2 separate regions of the Homo sapiens genome follow, and region 1 is linked to region 2. The links come from fine-mapping of genetic effects on gene expression. A gene starts in region 2. The other region holds a variant in brackets. All regions are shown on one strand. Distances are between the middles of the regions.

Region 1 (9,052 bases), 98 kb after region 2:
GAAAAACACTCCACACTCACAAGTAATTAAAGAAAAGCAAAATGAAGCAACAATGAGATCCTTTTTCACTTATCTAATTAGCAAACATTTTGTTTCCTTTTTTTAGTGATGAAATTCAGTATTGGCCGGAGTTCAGAAAATGAATCTCTTTTATTCATTGGTAGGAGTGTAAACTGGCAAACCTTTTCTGGAGAGACATTTGGAATATTTATTAGTGGCTCTTCAAAGCAGTATTTCTCATTATATGCACCACAGAGAATTGGTTAGGTAAGCTACGGTACATCCACATGGCGCCATTAAAATGTTGCAGAAGAAAGATTCAGTGATGTTGAGAAAAGTAGATTACAAGATCATATATTCAATATGAGTATAGTTTTTGTTTTTTTTAAAAAATGTATAGAAGGACCTGAAGAACCGGATTCTTAGTCACATAAAATTACTATTTGAAATTTACTTTGCTTCCATGAATGAACCTACTTAAAAATTTATTTATTTATTTTTTGAGACGGAGTTTCACTCTTGTTGCCCAGGCTGGAGTGCAATGGCACCATCTCGGCTCACCACAACCTCCGCCTCCCAGGTTCAAGTGATTCTTCTGCCTCGGCCTCTGGAGTAGCTGGGATTAACATGTGTGAGCCACCACACCTGGCTAATTTTGTATTTTTAGTACAGATGGGATTTATCCGTGTTGGTCAGGCTGGTCTCGAACTCCCAACCTCAGGTGATCCGCCCACCTCGGTCTCCCAAAGTGTTGGGATTACAGGCGTGAGCCACCGTGCTGGCTTAAATATTTAATAGGAAGAATTTCCCTAGTGGTAATTTGTTCTATGAATTTTTTTTTTTTTGATGGAATTTCCCTAGTGGTAATTACTTTGTTCTATGATTTTTTTTTTTTTTTTTTGATGGAATCGCATTCTGTCGCCAGGCTGGAGTGCAGTGGCACGACCTTGGCTCACTGCAACCTCCGCCTCCCAGGTTCAAGCGATTCTCTTGCCTCAGCCTCCCGAGTAGCTGGGATCACAGGTGCTGGACCACGCCCAGCTAATTTTTTTTTTTTCTTTTTTTTTTTTTTTTTGAGACAAAGTCTCGCTCTGTAGCCCAGGCTGGAGTGCAGGGGCGCAATCTCGGCTCACTGCAAGCTCCGCCTCCCGGGTTCACGCCATTCTCCTGCCTCAGCCTCTGGAGTAGCTGGGACTACAGGCGCCCACCACCATGCCCGGCTAATTTCTTCTAGTAGAGACGGGGTTTCACCATGTTGGCCAGGCTGGTCTCAGTCTCTTGACCTCATGATCTGCCCGCCTCAGCCTCCCAAAGTGCTGGGATTACAGGCTTGAGCCACCCCGCCCGGCCTTATGAATATTTATTAAACTCCTCCATAAGCCACGTGCCACTCTAGGTGAAAGAGACAGAAGTGAATAAGGCAAACGTCTAGCTTTTATATCCCTTTTCATAGGGAACACAACAATAAATAAGCAAAACCAACAGAAATAAGAGGGTGATAGTTTCATGAAGAAAACACAATAAGTTACTGGGACAGAGATTGTAAGGAGGTCAGGGGGCAACATTACGTACAATGATGGATCTGATGGATCTGATGAAATGATATTTGAGTTGGGACCAGAGTGACGAAAAGGATTCCAGGCAGAAGGGAGAACAGGGGCCAAAGCCCTGGGGTGGGAACAGCACTGAAATACTTATGGAACAGAAATAAGTTCAGTGGGGCGAGAGTCTGTGTGTGAAGACAGCAAGAGAGTAAGAAATGAAGTCAGAGTTAGGCAGGCCCCAAATCACTTACACTCTTAGGTCAATGGAAGGCAATGGGAAGCCACTGGAGGACTTCATTAAAATTTGATAAAATGCATTCTTAAGGATCAAACATAAAATCTAAACTTTCGGTAATCATTTATGGTTAAAAGTTAACGTTAGGTATATAAATCTTCTTTAATAAAACAATTCTGTGGGACAGATCTGCTACCAAGGCTCAGAGAAGTTGAGTGGCCTGACCACAGTCACACAGCTGATAGGTAGCAGGATTGGGACTAGAGCCTGGGGCTCCTGCGCCCCAGGTCAGTTACTAGGCATGAATAGAAACACCGCACTGCAACACTGAATGTTAGCCGACATGGCAGCTAAAATGCACACATTAGCATTACCAAATGAGTGAGCCGATTGAGCAAGTGAGTTCTCCTACCACTACCTCCCCTTAGCATTGGCTTTGAAGACGGTAACCGGGAAAACTCAGACTGGGTCGCCCCATGTTATTGCGCCAGGACTGGAGACTCTGAGAAGCTGGTTGCAACATTTGGCGTCTTCGCTTCGGATGCTCTATAAGCCTTTTGAGAGATGAGCCTGAGTTTGTGGCGGCAGGCTCCCTTTTGAAAGAGCCACCCAATCTGGCCTCCCCAGACATCTTCCTGGAGGAGGATTGAGCATTATTCCAAAAAAGAAGGGTGGCCTCGAGCTGGCCCATCAGGCCCTAGCAATACCCAGCTCCTCATCAGGATGGGTGCAATGTTTGTTTTGGACTTTAAGCTTCTCTTTCACCCTTCGCTCTTTGTTTCCAAGGCAAGGCCAGTCAAGCTGAGCCCTCTCAGCAGAGCCTTTTCCAGCAGCTGCAGAAGCCGCCTCACAACAGCCACTGGCTGGTGCTTCTTCCTCTCTGTGTGGGATGTTGCCTCTTACTCCTCTCGCAGTCTACCTGGCTCTCCTTGGCTTGCGCAGCCGTGGGCTGGGGAAGCATAGGGTACCCTCAGTGGTCAGTTTTATCTCTGAGTCCCCAGAATGCTGCTCTTGATTAGCTGGACCTTTCCCAGTCTGGGCTTTGCAGCTTGCACTTATATTTTCTCTGGACAGTCCAACTGTTCTTTCACAGAGTCCTTCAAACACATGGCTCTTTGAGATTTGAGTTTGCTTCTTATTTTTTCTTTAGAGATGGGGTTTTGTACTGTCACCCAGGCTGGAGTGCAGTGGCAGGGTCATAGCTCGCTGCAGCCTCCAACTCATGGATTCAAGCAATCCTCCCATTTCAGCCTCCTGAGTAGCTGGGACTATAGGCAGGTGCCATCTCACCCAGCTAATTTAAAAACTTTTTTTTTTTTTTTTTTTTTTTTTGTAGAGATGAGATCTTGCTTTGTTGCCCAGGCTGGTCTCAAACTCCTGGCCTCAAGCAATCTCCTGCCTCAGCCTCCCAAAGTACTGGGATTACAGGTGTGAGCCACTGCAGCCGGCTTCCAGACTTCTTAAATAAGGAGGTAAGTTGTGAGGTACCTGGAGTAGTGAAATGTATCAAGACAGAAAGTAGAATGGGGGTTGTTAGGGGCTGAGGGGAAGGGGGAATGGGGAGTTTTTGTTTAATGGGTATAGAATTTCAGTTTTGCAAAGTGAAGAAAAGTTCTGGAGATCCATTGCACAATAAGGTGAATATACTTAATGAACACTACAGAATTGGAAACTTAAAAAATAGTTAAACCAACCTGGCTGACACAGTGAAACCCCGTCTCTACTAAAAATACAAAAAAAAAAAAAAATAGCCGGGCACAGTGGCTCATGCCCATAATCCCAGCTACTCGGGAGGCTGAGGTGGGAGAATCACTTGAACCCAGGAGGCAGAGGTCGCAATGAGCCGAGATGACACTACTGCACTCCAGCCTGGGTGACAGGGTGAGACCCTATCTCAAAAAAAAAAAAAAAAAAAAGGTTAAGATGGCCAGTTTTCTGTTATGTGTTTTTTAAAACCATGGTTTTGAAAAAAAGCAGATAAAGAGTGGACCTGATCTCCCCATAGTTTGCTGCCCTCTTGTCTGCCCGCCTGCCCGCTTGAACACATGGAGCTCTCCTTCCCTGTGTGTAAGACTGATCTTTGGTAATGAGATGCCTTGACCTGCCACTTGATGTCATGGGATAACTGAGAGCCCACTACCTTGAAGTCTCCGTGAAGACACAGTCCACCGCCTCAAAACACTCCACTGATGCCTCCAACCCCACTGACCTCAGCAACCCTTCCTGTCAAAGTCACAGATGACTTCCACTTTGCCAAATGCAACGG[C/T]CATTTTCTGGTCTTCCTCTCAGCTTCTCTCTTGGACACAATTGACTTCCTTCTTGAAATATACTCTTGTTTTGGTTTCAGGACCACCTCGATGTCCTGGTTTCTGCCTAACTTAATAAACATTTGGATCCCTTCACTGGTTCCACCTCTTCTCAAATGACTAACTGTTGGTGTAGCCCAGGGCTCTGTCCTTGGCCTGCTTCTCTTTTCCCTCAGCATTTTCTCTCTAGAGCATCTCAACTATCCCTGAGACTTACAGATAAGTCAACAAGATAATTCCCAGATCTGTGCTTTCAGCCTGGATCTTCCTACTAAGTTTTAAATTATGCCTCCAACTGCCTTCTTGACCTCTCCACTTGGATGTCTGTATCAACCCATTATGAATTTTCAATTCATTGGGGGTATAAACATGAAGTCGGTTCATGTTTTTCCATAACTGCCCTGATTATGCTAGTCTCAATACTCAAGAATCTTGGGATACTTCAGTCCAATTCCACAATGTCCAGATTATTATTACTATTATTATTTTGAGACGGAGTCTCGCTTAGCTGCCCAGGCTGGAGTGCAGTGGTGTGATCTCGACTCACTGCAACCACCATCTCCCAGGTTCAAGCAATTCTCCTATCTCAGCTTCCCAAGTAGCTGGGATTACAGGCACCCGCCATCATGCCCAGCTAATTTTTGTATTTTAGTAGAGATGGGGTTTCACCATGTTGGCCAGGCTGGTCTTGAACTCCTGACCTCAGGTGATCTGCCCGCCTCAGCCTCCCAACATGTTAGGATTACAGGCGTGAGCCACTGCGCCCGGCCGATGTTGAGATTACTAAAGTAGTCTCATTCTAGATTTTAAAATCTCATTACTATTTATACTTAAATATTATCTCAATGGTCAATTCTTTGTCTAGGACATCAAATTGTTAAATAGGTCTAAAACACCTTGAAATAACAGAAAGCAAGGAATCGATAAAAAAAATCTTAGGCCCATGCCAAAAGAATCCAGGAGCCAGCATGAAGTCTCCTTCTGTCTAAAGATGGAAATGTTTGAACAATAAAAATAACAACTGCAGTGGATTAAACACATTAAAATCCTTAAATGTATAAGTTCACAATGAAACTTCAAAAAACTCTCTCATTTGTCCTCTTTTAAGGATGACTAGGCAACCAACACATTATTTTGAAAACTTGTAAATAAAAAGAAAAAATAAATGTTTCCAGCATAAAATGAGCCTCAGGACAACCCAGTAGTTAAAGAGGGAAATTTATCTTTACAGAAGTATTTCAGCTAATAAAGAAAGAAGGATTAAATTGGAATATCACATTTTTTGGAACCTCTGGTGAAATCATTGTTCTTGGCAATAATCACTAATAATGGCTAAAAAGACAACTGTAGAAAAAAGCATAAGGGAAAAGCTTCACAATATTGGATTTAGCAAGGATTTCCTCAGTATGATACCAAAAGAACAGTCAACAAAAGGAAAAATAGACAAATGGGACTTTTAATCAAAATTAAAATTGATTAATTTTAATCAAAATTAAAAGCTTCTGTGTATCAAAAGACACAATCGAAAGAGTGAAAAAATAACCCACAGAATGGTAGAACATATTTGCAATTCATATAAGGGGTTATAAGGGGTTAGGATCCAGAATATATAAAGAATTCCAACAACTCAACAAAAACAAAAACAAAAACTCAATTAAAAAAATGGGCAAAGGACTCAAACAGACATTTATCTAAATATGATATACAAATGGCCAACAAGCATATGAAAGATGCTCAGCGTCACCGTCACTAATCATTAGGGAAATGCAAATCAAAACCACAATAAAATATAACCTCACACCTGTGAGGATGGCTAATCAAAAAACAAAAAAAGTACGCAATTAAACAAAAATAAAACAAGGGTTGGAGCAGAGGCAGAGAAATTGGAACGCTTGCACATTGTTGGTGGAATTGTAAAATGGTGCAGCTGCTGTGGAAAACAGTTTGAAGTTTCCTCAAAATACTAAAAATAGAATTGCCTTAGGATCCAGTCATTTGATTTCTAGGTATATACCCACAAGAATTAAATGAAGGATCTTGAAGTGATATTTGCACACCCATGTTTATAGCAGCATTATAGTCAAAAGGTGTAAACGGCCAAAGACTGGGCAGATTGATGGATGAATGGATAAACAAAATGAGGTACACACATACAATGGAGACCCTGAAAGTGAAAGGAATTCTGACACATGCTACAACATGAATCCTGAGAACACTATGATAAGTGAACAAACCTGTCACCAAAAGACAAATATTGTGTGATTCTGCTTATATGAGGTATCTAGAGTAGTCCAATTTCATAGAGACAGAAAGTAGAATGGTGATTGCCATGTGCTGGAATGGGGTCAATGAGGGGCTTTTGTTTAATGGGTGCAGAGTTTTAGTTCTGCAAGATGGAAAGGTTCTGGAGAGGGATGGTGGTGATGGTTGCAAAACAGTGTGAAGATACTAACGCTACTGAACCGTACACTTAAAAATACTTAAGATTGTACATTTTAGGTATGTGGTTTCATTTTTTTTTTTTTTGCCACAATAAAACGAAAAAGAGAGAGAAATAACCTGTGAAATAATCTTGCCAAAAAATCAAACCAATTTAAATCTGATCAAGCCTCTCCATCTAACTACCAATTTATAGAAAATGTGGGTCAGAGGAACATCTTAACAAGGTCGCTTGGAAGCAATCTGCAAAACCCAGACTGTGGGAAACTCTACAGGAAAAACAACCAAATTTCTTTAATAAATTGCAAGAAAATAAAGTAGAAAGCAGAAGAAACCACAGATTAAAGGATTCTTTATTTATTTATTTTTGTTTTTATTTTTTTTTTGAGACACAGTTTCACTCTTGTTTCCCAGGCTGGAGTGCAATGGCATGATCTCAGGTCACCACAACCTGTGCCTCCCGGATTCAAGCGATTCTCCCGCCTCAGCCTTCCGAGTAGCTGGGATTACAGGCATGCGTCACCACGCCTGGCTAATTTTGTATTTTCAGTTGAGACGGGGTTTCTCCGTGTTGGTCAGGCTGGTCTCTAACTCCTGACCTCAAGTGATCTGCCCGCCTCGGCCTCCCAAAGTGCTGGGATTACAGTAGTGAGCCACCATGCCCAGCCAAGGACTCTTAAAAGATATAAACATCAAGTGCAACGTATAGAACTTATGTGGATTCTTAATCAAACTATAAAAAATTATGGCACAATCTGGGAACATCTGATAATATTCAGGAATATAATGGCTATTTTAAGTCCTTATCTTTTGGCAATATCTACTAAAATATTTATGGTAAAATAGCCTGACGTCTGAGACCTGCTTAAAAATAATTGAGGTGGGAAAGTTGGAGGGTAAGTATGGATGAGCAAAACTGGCTGAGTTGGTCATTATTGAAGCTTGAAGCTTGGTGGCGGGAGTCAGCACACTATTCTTTCTGTTTTGTGAAATAGAAAGAATCCCCCTTTTGGCTGTCTCTCATATCTTTCTCCACATCTGGGCGGCATCAGCCAATGTCTGTACAACTTTTAGACAGAAGACAATCAGAACTGGGGACGGGGTTGAGGTCTGGTTGGGCACACCCACTCTGCAGTTGCTTATCTTTGAGTCTGTCCTTTCATTTATTGAATGAATGAATAAATGATATTTTTTAAAGCTGTGCATTGTGTTTGAAATTCTCCAATAAAAAGTTTTCCTTTTAAAATAGTAACCTTAGATTCTGCTTGAAGTCAGCCTCCTCTTCCCCCAGCAGCGTGACATAGGAGACAAAGTCATGGCGGGTACACATTTTTCCCCTCCAGCTCCCCTGGACCTACCCTCCTGGGTCGCAGCAGAAGGTGGAACAGAGCAGCAGGGACAGCTCCTTGCTGGGCTGCCCGGAGCAGGGAGGCAGTCTCCTCTCCCTGGATCGCTGTAGCCTTGTGGGCTACAGACACAAACAGTCTGACTGCTTGTGAGGCAGGGGTCACATGCTGGATCTCTCCTGGAACCAATCTTTGGATTTTCTAGACGCGCTTCAGATGTCCTTCCCTACTGCAGCTCTGCGGCGTGAAGATCGGGTTCTGGCTGGCGTTCACCTACGGCCTTCACCACAGCTCCTTGGTTGGCCCTGCATGAAGGACAGTGGCCTTCGGTGGGGTACCTAAGGTAGCTTAAGTCTAGCCACCTCTCAGCTGTCTAGAAAACCCACAGGAAATTCATGGGCCATTTCTGTGTCAAATGGAGGAAGTGCAGGCTGCCCAAGCGACACTCCCTCTTTTGGCTGTCTCTCCTACACCTTTCTCCACAACTGGGCAGCATTAGACAATGTCCGTACAACTTTTAGACAGAAGACAATCAGAACTGGGGACGGGGTTGAGGTCTGGTTGGGCACACCCACTCTGCAGTTGCTTATCTTGGAGTCCGTCCTTTCATTTATTGAATGAATGAATAAATGATATTTTTTAAAGCTGCACGTAAAATATGATCAAACTGAGCATACAATTAAGCTCTATTGGCCCAAGTGTTCCAAAGAGGGAGAGTCAGGACTTCATGAGATACACAGAATTGGCAACTGCAATAAGCTTGTTTCTAATTTCTCTCTGTGTTCTCTGTTCTTTTCTTTTCTTCTTTTCTTTTAAAGACAGGGTCTTGCCCCTTTGCCCAGGCTGGGGTGCAGCGGCAGTCATAGCTCACTGCAGCCTCGACTTCCTGGGCTCAAATCATCCTCCCACCATAGCCTCCTGAGTAGCTGGGACTACAGGCACACACCACCATGCCCGGCTAATTTTTTAAATTGTTTTTGGAGATTGGGTCTTGCTATGTTGCCCAGACTGGTCTGAAACTCATGGGGTCAAGCAATCCTCCTGCCTGGGCTTCCCAATTTGTTGTGATTACAGGCGTGAGCCGCTGTGCCTGGCCTAATGTTATTTTTTAAATTACTCAGTGTTTTATTAAAGAATCTCTAATAATTGATAATTCACCTTCTTTTGGGTTTATTGTATAGA
Region 2 (9,052 bases):
ATTTCCACAGCACCCAAGAGTGTGAGGAACCACCAGTGATCCTGGAAAGCATCTGGCAGGAGATCTTGTCATTTCTTACAAGCCTCTCCTATAAACGAAGGCCAATGGAGCAGAATGGACTGTTCGGTTCTACCAAATTGCTTAAACCAAATGCCACAGATGGTCTATACTTTTAACTACTCACAGTAATATATTTTTACTTAAAAAAAAGTCTGGTATGATTTCAAATGCCCTTCCTCCCCTACCTGCAATGACAAATGCACTGAAAAATGATGATATTTACTTGATACCCAACACACCCCTAACTGTGAGATCCAAACCAAGAATTAGACACGCCTGGCCTCTACTAACACCAGCAGGCTTCGCATTTAACATTCACGTGCCAAGATAGCTTCTCTCACTTTTTCTCCATTCTTATCCCCACCCACATACACATATCAGTTTAAAGCACTACAGAAGCTACTTACTCTGTTATTTGTTCTTGTCTTGCCCAACTGCCCAAGCCAGGTCAAATATCAGCCATAACTCTGCTGTGTAGATCTCAATAGGCTGCATAACCTTCCTCGAGGACATTACATTATTTTGGTCAATATGAAACCATTTTTTGGTAACACATCACCTTCAACTTCCATATTAAATAAATTTAAAGTAGACTTAGAAATGTCTCGATCATTTTTGGAAAGAACAAAGTAATTACTTGGTTTGTTTCTTAAAAGTCACGTAAAGTAGACTCAATTTTAAATAAGGGGTTTAGTATCCCTGTTAAAATCTGGAACTTTTTTTAAAAGAATAAAGCCATTCTGTTAATCAAATAAGTGTTAGCTTTAAAAATTCAAGAAATAAATAGGGGTTTAAAATGACTGCTATCCTTAGAAGAGTTAATGCAACTAGAGTTTTGAGGGAGCATCTACTTTATAGAGTTATACATTCTGCTAGTGAAAAAAGCCCAAGATAAAGATGACTGCTGGCTCAGGCATCCTCTACCAGCCCATCTCTTCCAAAACAGCCTATTCAAGGCCAAATTGACTGGCTGTTTAGGTACATGCTACTAAAGAAAAAGAAAGTTTAATGTGATTAGCAGGGGAAACCCAGTTCATCCTAACAGCCCCAGCATCATATGGTTTCTCATCCACTCTATATACAAATATAAATAAGGTGGGGAAGAGAAAAGAGAAAGACAGACACGGTGTTCAGGCCATTTCTTGGAATCATTCATTGAATTTTGGAGTCAGAAAAGGGCCTTAGAAATCAACCACCTATACTAACGTCTTCATTTTACATACGAAAACAAAGTACCCACTTGGTGATCGTTAGAAAAGAAACCAGATAGCCTATTATAGAATGTCCAACAGGGAAATTTTAAAAATGTAACAAAGTGCTAAAATAGTAAGCAACAATATTTGAGGAACTGGAGTAAGTAGTCACCTACAGTTCCTTTGTAACATGATGCTTCAGTTGGAAAACTGTAGGCTGCCAAAGCTCCTAAATAATTAATATTTCGAATATGCAATTTAGACCAAAAAAAAGTGCAGCTTCATAAAACCTTGGAGAAAACAACAAAAATTGTTACAAAAAATTAACTTTATTATAAGAGATTTATTACATTCAATTTGAAATAGGTATTTTCATGTGCACTTTGATTTAATATTATTAATATGGACTTCCTTCACAAAATTCACAATTTCAGTATTTCCACTTAGTTATAGTAAATTGTAAATGTTAGCTGTTCAAGAACTCAAGAAAAATGAGGGCAAAGAAAAAGGTCTGTAGCTTTCATCCAGGTTGTGATACCTTAAAAGTAAGAAATGAGACTCAGAGCTGGAGAAAGAGGACTGGTATCCTTTATAGAGAAAGAGCAATAGAGAGGACTTGAAAGTATCTGAATTATTGGCATCTTTTTATTTCCCAGAATGTCTGGAAGAGGTAAATAAGCGCTTTAGAGGGGAAAGGCATTATCTTTTTGTAATACTGAGCCTCTGGTTATTTTACCTCTCAATGCATGTGCACACCAGGCATGCACACACACAGAATATTAATAGCTGATAAGTATTCAAAGATTACATAGTACCTGAAGGAAGGCAGACCCAGGTTCATAATGACGCAAGAGAACTCTGCAGTGGGGAACCGTGGCTTCTTACTAGACATTGCTTCCCGGATATGCAGCCTCTCAGTTGAGCATGAAAGCCCTGATGCGGTTTGTAAAGTAGGCGGTAGCTGATTGTTTTACTGTGAGATGCTTGTTAACCAGACAGAGAAACTATGAGTTTTCAAAAGCACCCATGATGCCGACTGAGCTAACATGAACTAACAGAGTGTTCTGTTAACTGTTAGGTAAAGAGGTTCTCAGCTTGCCAATGTTAGTCCTTTCTTCCCAAAAAAGTGCAAATAAAAAAAAAAAAGAAATTCAGAGTTGCAAAACTGCTGCCCCATTTAAGTAAATTATAATCTAAGAAAAATCACAAGAGGATCCCACTCACATTTCTGTAAAGTTTCCACTGATCTAAGATGCTTCCAATTACAAAGAAAACGATGCTTCACTAAAGTCAGCATGTTTTCAAAATAAAGATATAATTATGTGAAGCAGAAAATCTAATAAATCACGTACTTTTCCCTCCGTAATTTTAGATTCATGTAATTTAGCTAGATTTATCTTTACATAATAGTCGAGTGAGGTATTTAAATTCTCTAAGCAATTATATTTTAATACAAGTGACTTTTCAAAACAAAAAATGTATTTGTGAAATAGAAAATACAACATTTTATTTAATATAGTTATGTTAGCACCTTTCCCAACCTACAGTGAGTTCTCAGAAGTTACCACTTCGCCCTGTCTCCGGGTTTAGTAGTTTCTCCAATCTAATTGGAACTATTACTTGTTACTTGGAAACTGACGGTCTAGTTAGTCTTCCCACTGAGAAAGAATATTTAATTATTACTGCTTTTTGGGTTTAACAAGCTTTTTGTTGTTGTTGTTGTTGTACTACGCTCCATCCTATTGACTTTTCTTCCCGGGAATCATTGCAATGACTTATTTTATATTACTATATTTTATTTCATATTTTACCTTTTCTCCACGATGCTTAAAAGAAAGGCGCTCCGAAATCTGGCTCTCTGCGCCCAGGGGAACGAGGCACAAATCTCCGCCACTCAGCCCCACTGAGCAGAGACTGCGAGTCCGAACCCTCAAGTTCCTCGGGGCTTTGACCCCTCAATGGCGGCGGTCTAACTGCTGGTAAAACCCCCGGCCCCTGACTGTTCCACCGCCCGTCTCCCAAACGCCCAGCGAAGGCTGACTTAGGTGGCGGGCGGACCTCATCGATTCCTCAAACCACATCGTTTGGTCAAAATCGCCCGCCCTCTCTTCGCTCGGATTTTAAAGGCTAGGCTTGTAAGTCAGTAAGTTAACGGTATTTGGGCCCTGGGCTGCCCTTGTGGGTCAGGGTCACTGATGTCCGCGACACGGACTGGACCGCGCACCACGCCTGCTCCCGGCAGAGGCCCCACCCGGGTGGCTGAGCGCAGCGCACTGGGGCCCCGCGGTCCGAGAGCGGCGGGGAGGAGCGGGCGCTCGCCGAGCGTTCCCCGGGACAGTCCGGCTTGGGGACTCAAGCGGGTCATGGGATGCCGGCGCTGGCCCTCTCCTGAGATCCTCCTGCTCCCCCGCAGGCACGAGTCCCCTCCAAATCGGCTCCCCTCCTACACTCTCGTGACGCGAGGTCGCGGCCAGTGCCCAATATCACCAAAGTCCCGGCCTCAGCCCAGCCCCGGGCAGCCTGGCAGGCTTTCAGGAGCCTCTGCTCCCGGCTCCGGGGGACCCTGCGTACCTGCCCCAGGTCCTCTGGGAATGGGCTCTGGGTGCCAGGCAGGTCCCGGTGCGTGCTGCTCCTAGTGCCCAGGGCCTCGGCAGTGAGACCCCAACCCGACAGCTGGATAAGGGATCAGCGATCCTGTCGCAAACGGACAGCCCCAGCGCGGACCCGGTCTGAGCGCTGATGCTCGCGGGTCCAGGCCAGCCACTCCTCGAGGCGCTCCCTCGGAGAAAGGGCGCAGCGGCCCCAAGCGTGCCCGCTGCAACTAGTGTCCCAGGTTCTCGCCGTAGCCAGCTTCTCCGGGCTACAGCCTCGTCTCCCCGCGTGCACCCCGCCCTGGCCTCGGAGGCTCTGCCCTCCGGCCGCCCCATCGCAGCCCGCCTCAGGCCCCGGCCCCCAGCCGCGCCTCACCTGTGAGAAGCAGACAGCTGAGCAGCGCGCACAGCAGGACCCCGGTGTCCCAGTAGCTGACCATGGTGAGCGCGACGCGGCCTGCTCGCCCGGTGCCCGCGCTCCCCGCGGCCAACGACCCGGCCGCCAGAGTCCGTCCTCTCGTTCGCCGCCGCCGGCCCCGCGCCCTGAGCGCCCGTCTCGCGGCTCCAGCCAGGAGACAACCACTTCCCCGGGTAATCCTCGCCGCCAGGCGCCCGCTGGCCGCTGCACCCGAGCCCCGGAGCCCGCTCCGAGCCGCCGCCGCTGCCGGGGAGGAGCCGAGAGGAGTGTCCGCCTGGCGCGCTCCGAGCCTCCCGCGGACCTCGATGAAGAGCAGCCGAGGGCGGGGGCGATTTATAACCTTTCCCCAGCCCACTTCCTACCCCGGCACCTCCTTCTGGTGACGTCAAGGGGTCCCCCACCCCTCATCCGCCTCCCCACCTACCCTCTTCTTCCTCCCAGGCTCGCTTCCCTGCGGCTACGGAGAGGGGCGGGGGCCGACGAGGGCGGGTGGCCCGGGGCCGAGCGCGCGTGGGGAGGTGCTGGCGACGCGGGCCCGGGAGCGCGGCCCCGGCAGGTTCAGGGTCTTTGCTCCGCGCCCTCTTGCCCTTGCCCCTCCTCCTGCCCATCGCGCTCAGGAAATCCTTGCAGACTCCCTCCACCCGGCTTACTCAGCTCTGGGGGCCGCCCGAAACTGGGGAAGGGACAAGGCTGAAGCTCCGCCGCCTGGCCCTAGGGGCGGAAAGTCCGATCCAAGGGAAGCTGGCCGCGCCTCCGCGACGGTGTTCTTGGCACGGAGGACTGAGGCGCAGTCCGGCTGTCTCCCCTTGCCTGCTCTTCCCGCGCTGTCCCGCCGCTCCTGACCCCTTCAGACTGTCCCGAGAAGTCTAGGAAGGCACCGGAGACCCTCGGCACAAGGCACTGAACCTGGAGCGCCTGAGGGGAACTGACGCTTGCTTGGCACCTTTGGGAAGACTGCGAACCAGCTCAGGTCCCAGGGGAGCGTGTCCGTGTCTTTTTCGGCCGCATTGATGCACCCGCCCAAGTCATTTCCTCAGTCTTCTGCTTCCTAGAAGCAAAACAAGGAATAACATTATGATACCTTTAAAAAGCTGAGGCGTGAAACTGCTCCTGCAACTTGGAAGCGCAGGGCACTTGAACTTTATTCCCTAAATGCTCGAAAAAGAAATCTTTCTGGTGGCAGCTTGCTACTCAAGATGAGTGACTCTGACCACAACCGGCTGAAATTAACTTGAGGCCCTAGATCATTTGCTATGACACTAATTCCACGTTGTTCCTCAATTATGTCTCCATTACCTCAAAGGCTGAAGTCGTCCTGGCTGCACGGAGCAGCCCAGTCTTGTCTCTGTAAATACCGCAGATTTGAAAAATAGTCCTATTGGAACCCGTCAGAGGGATGTAATACAAGGGACTGTGATGGCTCTTGAACGGAGCCAGAGACTCTTCCTGAAGGACTGGACTACCTCCCCGCCTAGGAAGGTTGGGTAACCCAAAGTTGCCACATTTCTGGGCTGCACACCAAGGAGAGGCCCCGGCCACTCCACACAGGAAATGCACGTCTGGGCACCTGGAGCCGCAGGACCTGAGCCACTAACTGTCCCTGGATCCCTTCTGCTTCAGAGGCAAGGAAGACTGCCGGAGTCATTGCTTGCCTGCTGGCTTCACCAGCGCTTTCTGTTTTTCCAGTTCTCCTCACCACTCTTCCTGGCGCCTTTCTCTGCCTCCCGCACCCCTGCCTCCTCTAAAACCCACAGCATCATCCCTCAGAACAGCTGGAAGCGGACAGCTGATCCTTCTCCTTGCTGGTCCCCCAGCCCAGAACACAGCCTGGGACATACGTGCGGAGCCACAGTGTCTGTTGGTCTCACCTGAGAGCTGCTTGTCACTCCCACACCCTCTTTCAAGGAGAAGCTGTCAGCATTGTCCTTCTGCAGCATTCAACAGGGGCCAGGCATTGGGTTAGGGCTGAAAACACTGATGGAGAGCCATCATCTTTGCCTTCTAAAGGGCTTGGACTGTGATAAGAAGGTGGACACTTGAAGTGGCTGCAGGACCGGCATTCCAGTGCTGGAGGGGTGTTTAGTCCTCCATCAGCTCAGAGAAGTAAAGGCACATTTATTGGCAGGGAAAACCCAAGGAGGGCTTCTCAGGAGAGACACACATTTGACTCTGGGGGAAAGTGGTCCATAGTACCATGTACAAAGGTTTAATTTGCTAATACATTTTTTCAAATGCCATTTTGATATTTTTAACTCATAAAGAGACAACACTTTCCAAACCTGCTGCCAGCAATGAATCTACATTGTGTCTGTAAAGCCAGAACAGGTATTTGATGGACAGCTGAAACAATCTTTATAATCTAAGATGCTAATCAATGATATTAACATGTTGCTCAATTATTTAAGGTTAGTAGAGTCACAGTCGAATCTAAGATTTATATTAAAACTATGCTGCAGTAAGGGTGGGCTTCCACATTTCCCAACTACTCTTTTGAAAAGTTGCTTTTAATTAGAGTCAGCAATTTATTGACTATGACTTCTTTGTTAGTTGCATTAGCGTTCTCACAAAGAACTCAAAAATGCTACAAATTTTAGCTTAGATATGGGGAATAAATGTATAGCTCCCAATCCTCTCCCCAAAAGAGATAATACCTTTGAATGAGAATGGGCTATAGCACTCTCCTAACTAAATCACTAATGAAAGAGGTTTTATAGATAATACTGATGGAGAAGATGGAATTCAACACGCCTGGTGGGTATAAAAAGCTATTGAAGTAGGCAATCTGCTTGCTTCCTGCTCACATACAAAAGAACATTTCATCTCCTGTTTGGTTAGCAAAACCAGACACTCTCTCTTGTTATCAGCTACAAACATTCTCTTGAGGTTTCTTTCTCACCCCTATTCAGAAGCACACTGTTGCTAAATCCATCAGCTTTAATATTCGAGACTGAATAAGAGTGTTGGAGCACCAGTGTGAGAGACAGGAGGGAGCCCAGGCTCTCACCTTCCTCCAAAGACCAAGCATGGAGCTGATCAGCCACAGTCACTGAGGATCAGTCAGGAATTTCTTTTCCACTTGGGTTAGGTAGCTTGATACAAAAGGAAAAATACACTCTATGGGCATACTCTGCATAATGCAAATATGTATGGTTGAATACAAGAACCAAATGATCTCATAAAACCCTTCTGTGTTATATTTTAAAAAGCTTCACAGTACATATCCTCTGGACAGTTCAGGCTCCTTGGTCTAAAAAGCACACGCTCCCAAATCTCTGCTAAGAAGTTCTGCGGAGTTCACCAGGCAGGCACATGTATGAGTTTACTTATCAGATGCTGATGACCCCATTGGCTCAAAAGTCTTGCTATGGGAAGCTACCACTGTGGCTGAAATGCCCCCATTTTCAAAGAACTTAAACATCTTGTACTGGGTTTAAAAGCCATTCAACCCATCTACCGAGTCAATTCGTGGAATTCCTATTCAATGCTCCAATATCTCCACATGAAAATTTATTGAACACTTAAAAACACCTCCTGTGCCATGGGCATCTTGTCTCCAGCCTCAACATCCACATCCCTTTGGTCACTCTTCAGCTGACACGCTCCAGAAATTCCATCCAGCATATCAGTGTCCCTGCAGGTGACACGCTTAGGATTGAAAATGCAGCACAATTATCATTTCCCTACTCCTAGAGGTAGTTTTTCTTTCAGGCAGAGAGAAAAGCCTGTGGGAAGGCCCAGTGGGAGCGAGGAAGGAAAATCGTTCAGGTGGGAAGAGCAGCGTGGAGAAGGAAGCAAAGGGGACAGCCCCCTCCTGGAGATAAGGCCAGTGCCACCGAGAGCAGGGCAGCACTGCCCTGGTGGCACCTCTGGGGCCGCCGGCCTGGGCTCCCTGGCTCCTCCTGTTCCTGCTACTCATGCTCCCGTCTGCTCCTGACTACCTTCTCCCGGGCATGGGTGGGCGCTGCTGGTGTTTATAAGATCGCCATTGGCTTTACTTGGAATTCTCCTCCTGCTACTCCCAGGGGCTACTACGGAGAGAACTTGCTTCTGTTCCTGGGACCTAAGATCAAAGGAGCCTTTTCTGTCAGCGCCTTCATACCTTGGACTCTTCCAGAACTTATTCTTGGTTAAAGCCCCAAGGCTTTCTCATGAGAGCTGCTATCTGGCTGCCCTTGTGCAGCCGCCGCTTGGGTTGACTCAGGCTGCAGGCCCTGAGCGTGTTGTTTAAGCCTTTTGTTTGTTTTAGTCTGTCTTTCCAGCATGTCGAAGTCTTTCTGGTCTCTGATTCTGCCATCCTGTGGACTTTCTATAGCTCCCGCTTCAAATGATCCACAAATACGGTAAACGTGCCTTCTGGGTCATCATCAAAATCACTGACAAGGACAAAGCTGAGTGAGTGAATGAATGAATGAATGAATGGATGGATGAAAGTAGAGATCTGTGGAGGTTGAGCAAACCAAGGAAGGACTCAAATTATTCCTTTGTGTCATTATCTCTAGCTGTATGTTCACCAAAGGAGGCTGCATATTAACTCATTCACATTTACCATGTCATTATTTAGGAATAATTGATGGTCCTAGCAAGAGAAAATAAGACAGGTACATTTTATTGAAGGCATACTAGAAAAGTTGAAAGGAAAAAAAACAAAAAGACCAGACTGGGATAGTTAGAGAAGCATGGGGCAGGGGAAGCGGCAAATCAGAGAAGCAAATAAGGCCTAAAGGAAAAGTGGCCAATTAGAGTAATCTCTAGGAACCTCCTCTAATCAGTATCACTACTATCTTGCCTAA

Evidence for each region.
Region 1: its variant is fine-mapped to the expression of FLT1 in whole blood (TOPMed, PIP above 0.99).

What each region holds. Positions count from the first base shown.
Region 1 is chr13:28,588,400-28,597,451 of GRCh38, forward strand. No RefSeq gene overlaps it. Among named protein-coding and RNA genes, the nearest start is that of POMP, 66 kb to the right of the region's middle. The variant C/T (reference allele first, on the strand shown) is at 4,046.
Region 2 is chr13:28,490,560-28,499,611 of GRCh38, forward strand. FLT1 (fms related receptor tyrosine kinase 1) reads right to left here and starts at 4,569. Exons shown (of 30, transcript NM_002019.4): 1 at 4,221-4,569. The coding sequence starts at 4,284. RefSeq lists silencers at 4,055-4,104, 4,185-4,304, 4,425-4,474.